Regions from separate parts of the Homo sapiens genome. Here region 1 is linked to region 2. The links come from fine-mapping of genetic effects on gene expression. A gene starts in region 2. The other region holds a variant in brackets. All regions are shown on one strand. Distances are from middle to middle.

The links. PIP is the estimated chance that this variant, and not a neighbour inherited with it, causes the effect.
Region 1: its variant is the best candidate, but not a certain one, in a credible set for the expression of BRS3 in testis (GTEx, PIP 0.79).

What each region holds. Positions count from the first base shown.
Region 1 is chrX:136,417,884-136,426,637 of GRCh38, forward strand. No RefSeq gene overlaps it. Among named protein-coding and RNA genes, the nearest start is that of BRS3, 66 kb to the right of the region's middle. The variant T/C (reference allele first, on the strand shown) is at 3,980.
Region 2 is chrX:136,483,216-136,491,969 of GRCh38, forward strand. It overlaps BRS3 (bombesin receptor subtype 3), which reads left to right and starts at 4,732. Exons shown (of 3, transcript NM_001727.2): 1 at 4,732-5,333; 2 at 6,918-7,269; 3 at 8,747-8,754. The coding sequence starts at 4,900.

The DNA of each region.
Region 1 (8,754 bases), 65 kb before region 2:
AGCAGAATTGGGTTCAAATCCCAGCTCTGTCACTTTCTAGATGTGCGACCTCGTGATGTAATAATGATCATGCATGCATCCTAAAATTGAAGTGAAACTGAAATAAGATGAGGTCTGAAAATGTTCTAGCACAGTGTAACACAGTATATCTTCACTCCTTTCTCTTTCAAACCCCAATCAGCTTACCACTCATCCCCTCATGGCCCCAACCTACCATGTCTACCCCATTAAAGGTATCACATTGATCTTCTAAGCAAAATTTAATGCTGACTACCAAACAGACTACAGCACTGGTGCCAGTCACTGGTATAAAACTCCTAGGTCTCCATTGTTCCCCCTAACACCTCACATAATATAAAAATTAGGTTGGCCCTTAGGCCCCCGAATATCTGCCATCAGAGTCAAATCCATTGTTCCCCATGTGGCTCCATGTGTACTTTTTTGGTAGGGAAAGGTGAGTGAGTGTGTGTGTGTGTGTGTGTGTGTGTCCGTGTGTGTGAAGGGACTAACATGAATAATGATCAAAGTGTCTTGAATGTTACATGTCTTTGAACCGAAATATTAAGTCACTTTCACTCAAAAATAGATTTAAGGACAAGACTTGGTTGCAATTAGCACTTTTACAAATAAATGCATTTTGCAAGTGATTTGATTTGGGGGATCATTTTGGCTGTTAAAATGCCCATGATTGTATTTATTTTCAACAAGTAATAAAACCTTGATTGTTCTGCTGCTGCTGGAGTGATAAATGTACAGCCTATCTCTAATGACCTGACAGACTGTCGAGAACAGAAACGTTATTTGATAGAAAAGTTCATGATTCCTATCATGACACCCCTTGCTAATTAGGAAAACACAGGCTTTCTGCAATTTCAAAGGCAGTTTGAAATTGCAGGGAAAACACTGATTAAATATCTTACTGGCATCCTTTGGCTTGCTTTTCCTGGGCGCACAAAATGACTGATACTTGTGTGAAGGTGGACCCAAGTAATTATGGAAAAAAGACCCTAGAAACTTTGGACTGCTTTCAATCAACAATCAACTCCCAAGTATTCACAGAGTCCTGACATGGAGGGAAAGATATAGACACATCATACTTAGGCCACTACCTCCAGCAGTTTACTGTATACTTGGGGAGACCAGATGCATACACTGGAATAGTGAATGATTAGAGCAAGGATATGATAGAAGAAAGTGCTTTACAGGTAGGAAGTCACAGAGGATTTAGTCAGGCTGAGAGTAGGGTATTCCAGGTGGGGCCAATGGTGGCGGGGGTGGACATTTGAATAAGACAGGACTCTATTTCTCAATACCACAGGCAAATTGTCTTTATTAAGCATTGATCAGCAAATTTACAAAGCCCCCTGGAACCTCAGGGCATGGACTTTTCATTCTCTGCTGCACCCTGGGTACCCTGTGGGCAAGTGGCAAACACTGAATGGTACTAAACTCTCTCTGAGGCATGTCTGAGGAAGCTCCTGCGCAGAATCCTAATCCTTATCATTTTGTCCAAAGTCCCAAAGATGACAGTGACCATCTGTGATGGCCCACTTCCCCTGTACCCAGGAATATGGGAAGGTTGGGGAGGGGGCAGAAAGCTAAGAGGAGGTAAGGCTTGTATCTCTAATAGCTCAAGCCTATGATGTGTTTCTGGTCCTGACCTTCAAGCATTTAGGGTACACAAGGAGCTTGGAGCAACGAAGGAAGGACCTAATTATACCTGTCTTGATTAGGCAAAACCAGTGGAATGGATTAAATTTATACTTATAATGTCTGGTAACTCATAGACACTCCATAAATATTTGTCACATGCCTGAGTGCATAAATGGTCTAAAATACATGAGCATAGGAAAGCAATGGCTGACTTTTCCTAATCTAGGGTTTGTTATCTTAGTGCTGAGTAGACCTACGCTTTCCATTATTATATAAACTCCATTAGGGCAAGAACCTTGTTTGTATTTTTTACCATTGTACTCTCAGTACCTAGCACAATGTTTTACTCTAGGTTCTTTGGTTGCCAGCCACATAAACCAAATGTCTTTGAGCTGACATTATTGTCAGTTCTGACTAACCAAGGGGACTTGTTGAAAGTGTTTTGGGAATTCAAAACATTTATGGGAAAGTTAAAGAAGAGGTCTAGACATTGTGGAAGACAGTGTGAAGATTCCTCAAAGACCTAAAGACAGAGCTACCATTTGACCCAGCAAGCCAAATGGTATATACCCAAAGAAATATAAATCATTCTATTATAAAGACCCATGCATGCATATGTTCATTGCAGCACTCTTCACAAAGAGAGGAATCAACCCAAATGCCCATCAGTGATAGACTGGATAAAGAAAATGTGGTACATAGACACCGTGGAATACTACGCAGCCACAAAAAAGAAGGAGATCATGTCCTCTGCAGGGACATGGGTGAAGCTGGAGGACATTATCCTTAGCAAACTAATGCAGGAACAGAAAACCAAATACTGCATGTTCTCACTTATAAGTGAGAGCTAAATGATGAGAACACATGGACACATAGAGAAGAACAATACACACCGGGGCCTTGCAGAGGGTGGAGGGTGGGGGGAGGGAGAGGATCAGGAAAAACAATTAATGGGTACTAGGCTTAATACCTAGGTGATGAAATAATCTGTACAACAAACCCCCATGACACAAGGTTACCTGTGTAACAAGTCTGCACTTGTACCACTGAACTTAAACGTTTTAAAAAAAGAAAGAAGAAAAAAGAACAGGGCTTGAAAAAGGACAGGAGTCTACAAAGCAGGAACCATAGTGATTGTCTCCTAACAGGGAAGTAGACTCATGCGGGCGCCATTACTGGGAAGAATAAACAGTAATTTCTATGCTCATACTACTAGCTTAAGACTCAAAATCCTGTGAGCCTGTATCTAATCAGCTGAGCTTAAATTTTGTGCTATACTGAGCAGTGAGAGGAAGGATGTGGCAGAAAAAATCTTCAGGAGCACTTTGGTTTTGATAGTGGTAGAAGTATGAATTTACCATCCCACCAAGAATATCCACAATGGGGAAGAAGTCATTCTACAAAAAGAAAGTAGGGTGTTAGGAATGAATGAGTAGGTAGGAAAAAACCCCACATGTTCACCTCACACAATATAGAAGTGGATATACTTTGGTTGAATGATAACTAATTCAGTAGCATCCTTCTTCAGTGAGGGTGGGATAGTGCTAAGAAGAATAGATCTCTCCCCTACCCTGAGGCCTCATTCAGGTGAGAGGTGAAGCCAGCTGGACTTCCTGGGTCGAGTGAGGACTTGGAGAACTTTTCTGTCTAGTTAAAGGTTTGTAAACACACCAATCAGCACTCTGTAAAAACGCACCAATCAGTGCTCTGTGTCTAGCTAAAGGTTTGTAAACACACCAATCAGTACTCTGTAAAAACACACCAATCAGCGCTCTGTGTCTAGCTAAAGGTTTGTAAATGCACCAATCAGCACTCTGTAAAAACGGACCAATCAGTACTCTGTAAAATGGACCAATCAGCACTCTGTAAAATAGACCAATCAGTAGGATGTGGGCGGGGCCAAATAAGGGAATAAAAGCTGTCCACCCGAGCCGGCAGTGGCAATCCACTCGGGTTCCCTTCCACGCTGTGGGAGTTTTGTTCTTTGCTCTTAGCAATGAATCTTACTGCTGCTCAGTTTTTGGGTCCGCACTACCTTTAAGAGCTGTAACACTCACTGCGAACGTCTGCAGCTTCCCTCCTGAAGCCAGTGAGACCACGAAGCCCCCGGGAGGAACAAACAACTCCTGAAGCGCCATCTTTAAGAGCTGTAACACTCAGGGGGAAGGTCTGCGGCTCCACTCTTGAAGTCAGCGAGACCACGAACCCACCAGAAGGATGAAACTCCAGACACAGCTGAACATCTGAATGAACAAACTCCGGACACACCATCTTTAAGAACTGTAACACTCACTGGGAGGGTCGCCGGCTTCATTCTGGAAGTCAG[T/C]GAGACCAAGAACGCAGCAGAAGGAACCAATTCCAGACACATAGGTATTCACTAGTTACGTTTTAAGACTAAAGTGAATCAGGATGTGCTGAGAGAGCTGAAGTGTTAAAGATAAGCGTCCCAGAATGATAGATAAGAGTGCTGTTAGAAAAGGTGATCTTTAGAGATACTGGGTACAGAAGTTGGCCTCACTCTAAGGAAAGCCAATGTATTAAAATGAGCTTTATTGTTTGTCTACGTTGTCACCTTGCCATGTCTCTCCAGACAAGCACCTCTTCAGCCCCAATACTAGGAAATATTCCCCAAACCTCCATTCTGCACCCTAATTACTTAAGCCCAATAAAGACCCGGATCATGCAGGCTGGGAAAGTGTGATTCATTATAAAGTATACCTTTATGTCTTTGCACTTGAAAGGGCATTTTTTTAATTACACTTTTTGAAGGTGCTTCACCATAAAGCTTTTTATGAGTTCCCTTAAATATTTGAAAATATATTTTGATCCCAACTTCCAGGACCTTTCAGCTCTGATTAAGGAGTGCTCTGTTGTCTGAGAAGGAAAGCTAGGAGGAGTGTTACTTCCATTCTCCACCTCACCAGGCTAATGGCATTATGTTCACAAAGTGAGATTCCTAAAAAGGGAGAGGCAGAAGAAATCAATATTAAGTAGTAACTTCAAATACTGAAAAAATTTCATCTCATCTAAATGCGTAAGAAAAGTACAGATGTTTCCTTAATATATGCAGTCCTATGCAAATGATTATGTAAATTAAACAAAAAGTTGGGACTGGCAGATTCCCAAGTTTGCTAAGACTTACTTATGTTAACCTAGAATTCATCATAGAAACAAGGGTAAGGATTGTTGTTTACATCTCCTTCACTTAGATGTGAGGGGAGGCAAGATTGAAGGATATGCTACCTTAATAAAGTGAAGACACTCAAATCCGGGGACATGCTAGATAGATGGTTAGATGAGTAGATAGACAGTTTTCACCTTCAAAATGTTAGCCAACTCATTCATCATGCTCAGTTGGTTGTGGGCAGCAATGGGACTAGAAATGGAAATGAATCTGAGTTGGAGTGAATTTTGATGAAGGCCTAGTTCATGCAAGAAAGATTTTTTTCTTTTTTACATCCTCAGCTCACAAATTCCAAGAGGAATGGAGAATTTTAGAGACAGTTACAGGGGAAGAATAAAGACCTAGTGTAACGGGCTATATCAAATCTTCATGCACTGGCCCTTTCAGAAGGAGAGACATAAAGATATACTTTATCATGGATCGCTCTTTCCTACCCTGCATGATCTGGGTCTTTAGTGGACCTGAGAAATCAGGTTTCTTAGGTTTCTAACTATAGATAGATAGTAACTAACTATAGATAGACAGTTAGGTTTCTAATTACAGATAGATAGATGAATGAGCTGGCTAACATTTTTAAGTTGAAAACTATCTATCTATAGTTAAAAACCTAAGAAACTGGGGCTGGTGACAGTGCAGATAGTGAGGGATAGAAGAGAATTTTTCTCTTCTCTCTGCCTCCTTTAGACCTGAGTCTAGAAATATGAGCAGGTAAAGGTTTCAGAGAGGCTTGGCAGTCTTTGAATCTGGTAGCTCTCTAAGTCCAGCATGCTAGTCATTATGGGCACTTCCTCTGTGCCCATTTCTATGCTAAGCTCCGTAGAGGATACAATGAAGTAAAGGCCACAGTCCTACACACATAAAAATGGGCTGTCCTTCGTGTAATAAAACATCCATACCTACAACAGTTTGTCCACAGTAACATATGTTAATTCTTAAAATTGTGTGGTAGAGACCTTGAAGCATAACAAATAGTAACTACTTAATTACTAGTCCAATTCCACAAATATTTATTGAGAATCCACTATACTTGATGTACTGAACAAGACAGTTCCTAAACTTGTCTGGGGAGACAAGTGTGCAGTAACAATACACTATTTGATACTTTCATATGCTAGGAAGTTTCAATTTATACAACTGGCAGAAGGGCAAACAGGTATAGCCTGTTTGGAAAACTGTTCTGTAGTTTCTAAGAAAGTTAAACACACCCTATGACCCAGCAATTCTCCTGGGCATATACACCCTAGAGAAATGCAAACGTGTCAACCAAATATTTGCACACAAATGTTCATAGCCACATTATTCATAACAGCCAACATGGTGGAAACAACCAAAACGTCCATCAGCAGGTGAATGGATAAACAAATTGTGGGACATTCATCCAATGGAATACTATATAACAGTAAAAAATGAACTATGCACACACACGACAACATGGATAAATATAAAACATGTTGAGTCAAAGAAACCAGACACAAATGAGTCTGGCTTCTTTGACGGTACAATTTCATTTATATGAGCAGACAAAAACAATCGATGATTATAGAAATTGGAATAGTGGTGATCTCTCAGGGAGAAGTCTGTACTGGGAAGGTTTAAAGATAGCCTTCTGGCCAGGCGTGGTGGCTCACGCCTGTAATCCCAGCACTCTGGGAGGCTGAGGTGGGCAGATCACGAGGTCAGGGGTTTGAGACCAGCCTGGCCAACGTAGTGAAGCTCCATCTCCACTAAAAATACAAAAAATTAGCCGGCCATGGTGGTGGGTGCCTGTAATCCCTGCTACTCAGGAGGCTGAGGCAGGAGAATCGCTTGAACCCAGGAGGCGGAGGTTGCAATGAGCCGAGATCACGCCATTGCACACCAGCCCAGGCAACAGTGCGAGACTCCATCTCAAAAAAAAAAAAAAAAACAAAAAAAAACAAAAACAAAACACAAAAAAAGCCGGGGGGAGCCTTCTGGGAGGCCGGAAATGGTGCTTTCATAGCTAAGTACACATATAAAAGTTCATTCAGTTGCACACTTAAAATAATGTACTTTATGCATCTTATTGTAGTATGCTGTCTCTCAGTTGAAAAGTAGAGGGAAAACCCCATTCAAGCTATTGAGCACACTTTAGCAATGTCTATCCAAACTTCAGTGTATATAAACTTAGCTCAGAAATTCCACTTATAGCATTCTATCCTAGCTCAACAATTCAAAAATTTATGGGCAAGGTTATTCAGTGCAACCCTGAAATAGTGAAAACTGGAAATAAGCTAAAGCTTTTCAATATCAGAAGGGTTAAATAAATGTGGGCTATATATAGTATGGAATAATATGCAGCTAAGAAGAAGCTATACCAATTTGATTAATAATACAAATATATCCACAATATATTTTTCTGCCATAAAGAAATTTGCATGACAGTACATGTAGCATGATAAAGTATGTGTAAAAACAAAACTTTGTGTGTGCATGCATGTCCATAGTTATACAGAAAAAAGTAAGGACACACTCCTCATTGTTGATAGTGGTTTACCTCTGGGGAGAAGTATTGATGAGGCTTTCACTTTGTATTTTACATACTTCTGTATATGTTGAATTTTTATAGAGTATCTATAACTTTTGTAGTTTAAAAGTTTAGTAATAATAGGAATATATGCAGTGTGATGAATTTCCCTGAGATGTAACAGTGAAAATGATCAAAGGGTTTTTGTTGACAAAGATGATAAATTCAGTCTTGGACATCTGGTTTTGAGATGCCTGTGGGACATTCAGGTGGAGATGTCTAGAAGGGAGTTGGATATGTAAGTCTGGAGGAGAGAAGAGTGGTTAGGGATGGAAATGGAGATTTTGGCAATATCAATGGTAATTGAAGCCACCTTAGGAGTGAATGCGATTCCCAAGGGGGAGTACACGGAGGAAGAATGGAAGCAAGTAGGCCCAGAAATGAGGAGCACTGAGGGCCAGGCATAGGCGGATCATCCTGCAAGGGACATCCTGAAGGAATGGTTGGAGAGGTAGGAAGGAAACCAGAAATATGAGGTCCCATGTAAGCCAAGGAAACTTTAGTGAGATCCAAGAGGTTGAGCAGTGAGGAAGGAGAAGAGGGCAATGTAGCTCTTTGAATAAACGTAGCCACTAAGTTGCAAAAGTTGGTGGAGGGGTGGAGGTCACTGGAGGAGACTGAGGTTGAGAAAGTTTTTTAAAATGTAGTATTAAGATAAGAGAGAGATGAACACATTTACATGGTTAAGGGAAGTACCTAGCAGAAATATAGAGGTTGAAATATTGAGGGGGGACATAATTTAGCCAGTAGAACAAGGAAGGAAGGGATGGGATCCATGGCACAGATGGAAGGATTCCTCTTAGAAGGTGAGGCACTCCACTGTAACAGGAAGGAAGGTGGCAAGGGTGGGTGTGGACGCAGGCAAATATATAGATTTGGTAATCGGAATTTAAGGGAGCTCTCATCTGATAGCTTCTATTTTCTCTGTGAAGTAGGAGGTGAGGCAACCTGCTGAGAGTGAGAAGAGACTGATAAGATGGAGAAGGTTTAAAATAGCTGCTATAGAGAACAGGAGGAAGAGCTAAGTAGCAAAACAGAAAAATTTGTAGGTCTCCTTAAAGATCCACTTGAGGTGAGAGACTATAGTCTGCATAATTTGGGGGGATTGTGTGGGATCATCCCCTGGGAGAGAGGGCAGAGGTGGAGCATTTACACAGTGTCAAAATCCCTCATCAAATGGGTTAACTGATTCAAATAACTAGTCAATTCAGTGAAGAAAACATAGTGGCACAATTACTTGACACAAGAGCCCAACTTCTGATTACTGCCCCAGCTGAAGCATTTGGATTTAATTCCATTACCCAAGGTTCTGCAGCATGCTGGAGAAAAGGAAACCCTAACAGTAGCATTTCATCATTCTAGTCACAGCTCA
Region 2 (8,754 bases):
AAAGGTTGAGTTTTAATAAATGTATACAATCATGCATCCATCATCATCACACCACATAGTTTTGGAATACTTCCATCTTTCCTAAATATTCCCTGTACTGCTTAGCAGTCATCCCTGCCCCAACCTTCAGACCCAGGCAACTATTTGTGAGTTGTCTATAATTTATGGTTTTGTCTTTTCTAGCAATTTCATATTAAGGAATCATATAGTATATCTGGTGTCTTTCATTGCATACGTTTAAGATTCGTCCATGTTGTAATAAGTATCAATTGTCCTTTTTTATTGCTGTGTAGTATTCCATTGCCTGGGTAAGCCACATTTTGTTAACCCACTTGCTAACATAACAGACAGACATTTGGGTTATTTCTCATTTGATTTTACAAAAAATGCTTCAATGTTCATTTTTCTTACTAGTCTTTGTGTAGATGTATGTTTTCATTTATTTTGGGTAGAAGCCTAGAAGTGAAATTGTGGAGCTATATGGTAAATGTACAATTTTCATTGATTTGAGGCACCTGAACAGGATTAAGAAGTAGGAAGCTGAAAGTAAGCCATATGGGAATGGTACACATGGTTGAGGATATAGCAGAGAATTCCAGGAAAAGGAAGATTACTGAGAAGAAAGATAGAAATGCATTAAGAGAAAAATTCATCTACTTAATAGTTTGTACTTCAATATATGCAGGAAGCCTAAACATTTTATGTAATCACAAAATTGTCTCAATCTATTATAATAGTAGAATTTCACCTGGATCATAGCATACACCATTAGGCATGTGTGGATGGACAAGTACAGTGATAAGGGCATCTATAAAGGTACCTAAGTCTGCCAACAGCCTACATGGTTGTCCACTTTTACAGAGCCATTAAGTTTAATCATGACAAGAATTTGCCTTTAACAAAAAATTCCATTTCAAAGATTCAATTGGAATTTCTACTCTTTGCTTCTACCTCTTGGCTTTCTACTCTACCATGTAGAGTAGAATAGTACAACTGTTCCATGGCACAGTTGTATTTATTTTACCTGGTCTCTGCAGAGGCCATTCTGAACAGTAAGCTCCCCTTGGAATATGAAACTGTACCAATCAGGTTTTAGGACCAGAAGTAATGAAAGAGAACTTTGTGACAACAGAAATAATTATTACATAGCTCCAAACACACCCACATGTCGAATTATATTATCCTATAATTGATCTAACCCAATTAATCTATAACAAAGAAATCCATCCAACTTCCTAGTGCAAAAGTATAAAAGAAGAAAGCTTGATCATTAGAGACTTAAAGATTGAGAGTTCTAGTCATTCAATTTTCAGTTCTTAAATATACAAACAGATTTTGAAATTGAGTAAGAGGCAAAAAGTTTATGCACTTCATCTTTCTCCCATTGGAGAGATCACCCCAAGCACCCTGGATGATTTGGGCATAGATGCCCAAGAGTTCAGTGAATCTGGCTTACCAGGGATTAAGATATATAGGGAGGACAGCCAGCTCCAGGAAGGTTTTTGACATATCTATCACAGCAGAGAGTACCTTTTTCATTAATGAAGACCCACAGAAATATCTGTTGCACCTCAGTATCAGGAAAAAAAAAACCCATGATCCTCTTGGAAGAACTGAATTATTTTTATCCTAAGTGGTTCTCGAGTGTGGTCCCAACCAGCAGCATCCTCATCACCTGGGACCTTGTTCAAAATGCACATACTCAGGTCCCACGCCAGACCTACCAAATCAGAAGCTCTGGAGGTGGGACCCAGCAATCTGTGTTTTGATAAGCCTTCCTGATGATTCTGGGGCAAGCCAAAATTTGAGAACCACTGTCCTGTTTACTGATGGCCGAGAATCTTAGAACCAAATTGGCAGCTTCTCTCTGGCAGCTGTTTTCTAACCCCTCTCCCCACCACCTGAGAGGTAGAGAAGGCTTCTTCAGCACCCTTAGATGCCCAGCTCCTTAGAGACTTAAAAAAACATTTTTACAACACCAACTAAATTGGGCTGTGAACCAGAAAACACAACTTCAGAAAATTGGTAACTTATTCATTCAACTTCTAATACTTTTCTGAGTCAAAAAGCTGCATTAGGATTGTATTACAATTCCTTATCTAAAACCAAGTAGTTGTTTTGAAAATCTTGGATGATAATATTGACCACTTATGTACTAAAAACAAAAAAGGATTTCATCATTTTGTATAGGCCAAGTGCCTAGCTAAAAATGATTAACAAGACATGGTTATCTTTTGCTAGTGAATTATAAGGTTGTAAAAGAGATACAAAAGCAAATGCATTTAAATTATCTATCATGAATCACTGGTTAGCCTGGAAATCTCTTGTTCTTTGGTTAATAGAACACGCAGAAAACCTAAGCCTACAATGCCAAATGAGCAAATATGGCTCATTGTCAGGAACTGAGTGTTTTTCAGCTCTTGTCACTGATTTTTAACCTTTCAGAAGCCAAAGAGAATCTGTGTTTCATCTTAGTTCTGTTGAGAACTTGTGAGACCTTGGGTGAGATACTTTCCCTACTCTGGACCTCATTTCTGCCTCTGCAAAATGAGAGCATTTGATTTGATCATGTCTAGGGTCACTTCCATCTCTGATATTCTGGGATTCTGGAATTCTAGAGATCTAAGACCCCCACTGCTCCAGTACTACTCCAATACAACTACTCTCTCTTGACCGCTCTTGATCAGAAGGAAGAGGGAGAAGAAAAAGTATTCCAGTGGCTGCAGCCTGCTGAAAGCATGAGTGAGATCTGGGAATTCAGATAATCTCAGAAATCACATGCAAGCATTACAGAACTTACAAAACAGTGCCATGTGGAGATCGGCTGTGGTGTGAATTGGAAGACATGGTTTGCTCCTTGGTAAATGATACACAGGAGTCCCAGGGAGATTTTATCATTAGTTTGCTGAGAACAAGATGTGAACCCTTTAAGGAGCCCTTTTCTGTAGAGACAATCTTAAAGAACCAGCCCAGTGTATGAAATTACTAGAGTGTATATATCTGAAAGCTTAGGAACTTGGGTTTATGCAAACACTCCCCCGCACCCCCATTCCCATCAAAGGCAGTTATTTAGCTGAGTGATTCAAGCTGTGGCAATAACTTATAAAGGGTGGGGGATAGGTGTGGTTTGGGGGACTTAAACCACATCTGTCTTCCACCCTTCATGAAATTAAGGAGGTAATTGATTCAATTCATCCACTTCACTTTCTCTGAAGAACTGATTGCCCCTACTAAGTATAAAGAACAACCTTTGTTGTTCCCCCTGTTCATTAGCTAGCCAAATACTTTGCTCTTTTTCACTTCGCTCCCCAGACTACTTTCTAATATGGTTATATTTATGAACACCTCACTACATGGTTTCTAGCTGAGAGATTATGCATTGCATTTGATAATTTCAGAGAATATTTCTTAGCAGCTTCAATTAGTAACTACACTCCAACTGCTAGCTTCCTGCTCCCAAACAGTGCCCCCACCACAAACACATACATATAAAGCACATGGTTATGTTTTCTGTAAAAAGTAGCTTCTCTGGCTGGTACTGAGGTGGTTGCCTTAAATGTGTACTTCTTTCAGTTGATGTAAACATCATCTACATGCCCATCATCCCTGGAGTCACCTATTTCATTTCTTCATCTGCAAATGATGATTTTCATTCTTAAAAGTTCTTTTGTGTCAGGAGCTTGAGCAGTGATGTTCTGTATTGTTTTGTTTTGGAATAAGGCAGGTTAGGTTCCCTTTAACCATTTCTAGAGAGAAAAATCCTAAACAGCCCCTTAAAAGAAAACATGGCATTAAAACAGACAGTCAAACAGTAAAAAGTGGTTTTATTAGGACATTTAGAGACAAAGCAACTGGTGCTGTGCCTGGATTTTTCATCTCTTAAAAGGTTGTTTTGGCTGGGTGTGGTGGCTCATGCCTGTAATCCCAGCACTTTGGGAGGCTGAGGCAGGCGGATTGCCTGAGGTCAGGAGTTCAAGACCAGCCTGGCCAACATGGTGAAACCCTGTCTCTACTAAAAATACAAAAATTAGCCAGGCATGGTGGCGGGCGCCTGTAATCCCAGCTACTCGGGAGACTGAGGCAGGAGAATTGCTTGAACCCAGGAGGTGGAGGTTGCAGTGAGCCAAGATCGAGCCACTGCACTCCAGCCTGGGTGACAGAGTGAGACTCCATCTCAAAAAAAAAAAAAAAATTAAAAAGGTTGTTTTGATAGTGTACAGCACAGCCTGGATAACTGCAAAGTTGGGGTTTACCACGTGACAGAGCTAGGTATTAAGCCCAAGTGACCTGAATGATCACTCCTTGGAGGTGACATAAACCCTGTCGAAGTGTAAATGATCTGTTGCTTCACCATCTCTCTGATATTAAATTTTGAGGAGTGGGTTCAAGGTTGTGCTTCAGGGGACACCTACACTTATTTATCATGTAAAACAAAATGCACTAGACTACCATGTGATTGCAGGGGGATAAATGGTTTTTTTCTTAAAAAAAATTGACAAAACCTATATAGACCATCCTGGGTAGATATGAAAACAGGGTGATTCTAATAATAAATAAGACGATTTAATAGGGTCTAGTTGGTCCCAAGATTCCCCAACAGGGAAGAATAAGCAACTGCAGAGCATTTCCCCAGCCCCCTCCCTCTCCTTATGACAGGACACGCCAATAAAACTCCACCTCCTACTCTTCAGTGCCAGATGGGTAAGCATTTAGCCAAGCATGCTGGGAGACACACAGAACTGAAGCAAAGGAGTATCTGGATGTCTTGGATTTTCTTCCCATTCTGTTCTGTTCTGTTCTCCTAATACCATCTCGTTACTAGACGTAGGCATTGGACGTGACAATCAACTGCATTTGAACTGAGAAGAAGAAATATTAAAGACACAGTCTTCAGAAGAAATGGCTCAAAGGCAGCCTCACTCACCTAATCAGACTTTAATTTCAATCACAAATGACACAGAATCATCAAGCTCTGTGGTTTCTAACGATAACACAAATAAAGGATGGAGCGGGGACAACTCTCCAGGAATAGAAGCATTGTGTGCCATCTATATTACTTATGCTGTGATCATTTCAGTGGGCATCCTTGGAAATGCTATTCTCATCAAAGTCTTTTTCAAGACCAAATCCATGCAAACAGTTCCAAATATTTTCATCACCAGCCTGGCTTTTGGAGATCTTTTACTTCTGCTAACTTGTGTGCCAGTGGATGCAACTCACTACCTTGCAGAAGGATGGCTGTTCGGAAGAATTGGTTGTAAGGTGCTCTCTTTCATCCGGCTCACTTCTGTTGGTGTGTCAGTGTTCACATTAACAATTCTCAGCGCTGACAGGTGAGTTTCTTTTCTCCATTATATTTGCCAGGATGTGAAATTGGGCAAAAAGAAAGGAAAGCTTGTACTTAGCATTTACTGGCTACTATTCTGCTTTTCTCACACTCTGTAACGTGGATGTGAGATTGGAAAATCTGGTGGCATTTAAAATAAAAGTTAGTGTAAGAATGTTAAAATTTCTGTGTTAGCACGGAGGAGAAGTTGAAATTGCATGCTTTATGGATAATTTATTCTTATTGTTTGCTCGGAAGTATACTGAACGGGGTTTTTATTTTTCTCCAGTTTATTAAGTAAAGCAAATTGTTCCAGGTGTAAAGGAAAAAAATTCATGCTTTATACATTAGTGCAGCCTAGTGGTGCAATATAGTCAACATGAAAACCAGGATAGGTGTGAAATTGACCACATATGTATAACTGTATATTGGAAGAGTGGTAAAAAGACACAGGCATCTAATTTATTTGAAATTCATCAAATTAGCTAATGGCAGAAAAACGGTGAGGTTTTCAACTCCCTGGTAACTTAGTGTAATGTCATCACGTAATTCTACTTGTTTTCTCTGTAGGCATTCAGTGACATTATCATTTCCAGAGAAATAAATTAATCTTGGTTGACTTTTAGAGCTCTGTGGAGAGAGCGTGTGAGATCCTCTTGCAGTCAGGGTGTTCAGATTCTGTGTTAGGATATTTTCAGTCCAAGTACTCTGTTTTTCTGTGTTCCTATTGTAGAATAACTGTAAAAACATGAAAAAATTTGAGGCTCCAAATGTTAAAAATGATGCTTTACAAAGCCTGCAAGATTCCTGTAAGTAATCGATGTTTGGCAGTACCAGAAGGAATAACTTCTTCAGATTCTAGAATCTGAGAGGAGGAAAACCTTTCCCTGTGTCTTTTGATGATTTTTGCTTTGACTGGTCTTATATTCTATTTGAGGGCAGACTGGCTTAATGACTGTAGATTTTAAGGTGGATTTGTTTGAATGAGGAGGTATCTCTGTACCGGCACAGGACTTCTGATTGCAACTTTGCCTCGCCCTAAATCTGTCCACTGATCAGGTTGGGCAACGAATTAACACTTACAAACGGGGAAGAAATTAATCCTCTCCTCTTTACCACATAAACCCTTGGAATTCTCTTCTAGGAAGGTTGATAACTGTTCACTCATGAAGAAAGGAAAATTAATTCAGTTTAACATCAGTCACTTATACAAAAGAAGTCTTTTAGGTACCTTAAGTGTATTACACTTAAGGTAATACACAGGTGGTGAATTACTCTCAGTCACACATAAAGTCATGCTGATAAATGTTTATTTGTCCTAAATAGAGAGTCTATACATAAAATTATAAAATTGCAAATCTGGAATATCTCATAGGAGTGAATAATGGAAAAGGAGATTAGCATAAATAAAAATATTGGGATGTATTATGTGCATTTAAAACCATAGCCAATTCTAGTTGGTTAATGTTGACTTGGTTATACACATATGCACGGAGGGTAGAACTGGATGACCACTAAGGTCACTTCTCACCCTAAAATTTGGTAACTTTGACATTTATTTGGACCTTTGCCTCTGATTATGTGTTTCTAGATACAAGGCAGTTGTGAAGCCACTTGAGCGACAGCCCTCCAATGCCATCCTGAAGACTTGTGTAAAAGCTGGCTGCGTCTGGATCGTGTCTATGATATTTGCTCTACCTGAGGCTATATTTTCAAATGTATACACTTTTCGAGATCCCAATAAAAATATGACATTTGAATCATGTACCTCTTATCCTGTCTCTAAGAAGCTCTTGCAAGAAATACATTCTCTGCTGTGCTTCTTAGTGTTCTACATTATTCCACTCTCTATTATCTCTGTCTACTATTCCTTGATTGCTAGGACCCTTTACAAAAGCACCCTGAACATACCTACTGAGGAACAAAGCCATGCCCGTAAGCAGGTATGTATTAATCAGTACTCATGCAAATCTAGTTTGAATTTAGAAGTGAAGTTCCTACTTTTGCACAGTGAGTAACTGTGTATCTTCCTGTTTATAAATGCAATAGCAGTGTAGTATTTTTGTTATGAGCATAGGCTCCGGTTTGAATCCCAGTTCTATCACGTACTAGCTGAGTAATCTTGAGCAAGTTACCTAACCTTTCTGAGCCTCGGTTTCCTCATCTGTAAAATGAAGATGATTACTAGATGATATAGATGAAATGCTTAGGTGCAGAGTAAGTATTTCAATAAATGGTAAGACTACTACTATTAGAGAGGGGACAATTGAAGTTTGAGAGTAGTCAAAATTTTTTACCCCATGGAATAGTGGGGAACACTGCATAAGATGATACTATGAAGAAAAGCATCTTTTGTTTTAGAAAGTGTAACAGAATAAAAATACATAGCATATAGAACTGGCAAGAATCCGTAACACTATTCAATGCAAACCACTTACACACAGATGAGCAAACTGAGGTGGGGAGGAGTGAGGGGAAAGAGTGGAATGCAAGTAGCACGAGAACACAGTGACTCACAGAAGCTTGATTAAGACCACTGCAAGAGCCACGTGTACCCTCCCTCTCATAAATATGGACAGAATAAAAGGAATGTTGCCAAAACATAGTTCCATTTGATTAAAAATATTTTTCTAACCTCTGGGAAAGGGGGAGAGAGGATTCCATTTACCCCTTGATCGGTACGCAGAGAACTGTGCCTTTTTTAGAGCTAGTCCATTCAGTTAGTTTAACAATGGTGCTCATGAGACTGAAGTTGCATATTTAATACCCATGTGAACCAGTTACCTTTGCTCTATTTGTGACCACAGGCTATATATTCACCTAACTTGGCTCATTTCTCTTATTAATAGATGTAGGTAGGATTATCTTCACATAAAAAGGACAGCACATTTTGGATTTACTTCTTTGACTATATGGTTAGAATTCCTATAGAGTAAAAACAATTTTAGTTACCAGCTTGGCAACTTTCATAGACCTCAAAACAATATTCTGACCTAGTCAGCTTCTGCTGATGCAGTGAAAGCAATTTTGTATAGCGTCTCTTTGTTTTTAATTACAGTAAATTTTGGAGAATTCCACGGCATTCTTCGAGTTAACTGCAGACATCCTAGAGTATCTCGAAATTAGGGGGAAAGGTATCTCTGAATTAGAGTTAATGAGCCCAAGATCAGAGGTTACCATGCCAATTGACTTGCTGTGTTATATAGTCACAGGCTGACTTCCTGCACATCCCAGCCAGTTAGCATACAAATGCATGTTCAAAGGGAAATCAGCTGTAATTAACTGTAAATTTCTATGTAAATTTATAGGATAACTTTTTAAAATCTCTCACAGCTAAATGTTTTGTTTTTTTTGTTGTTGTTGTTTTTTGTGTTTTTTTTTTTTTTTTTTTTTTTTTTGCTATGTTTCTTCCCCCTATAGATTGAATC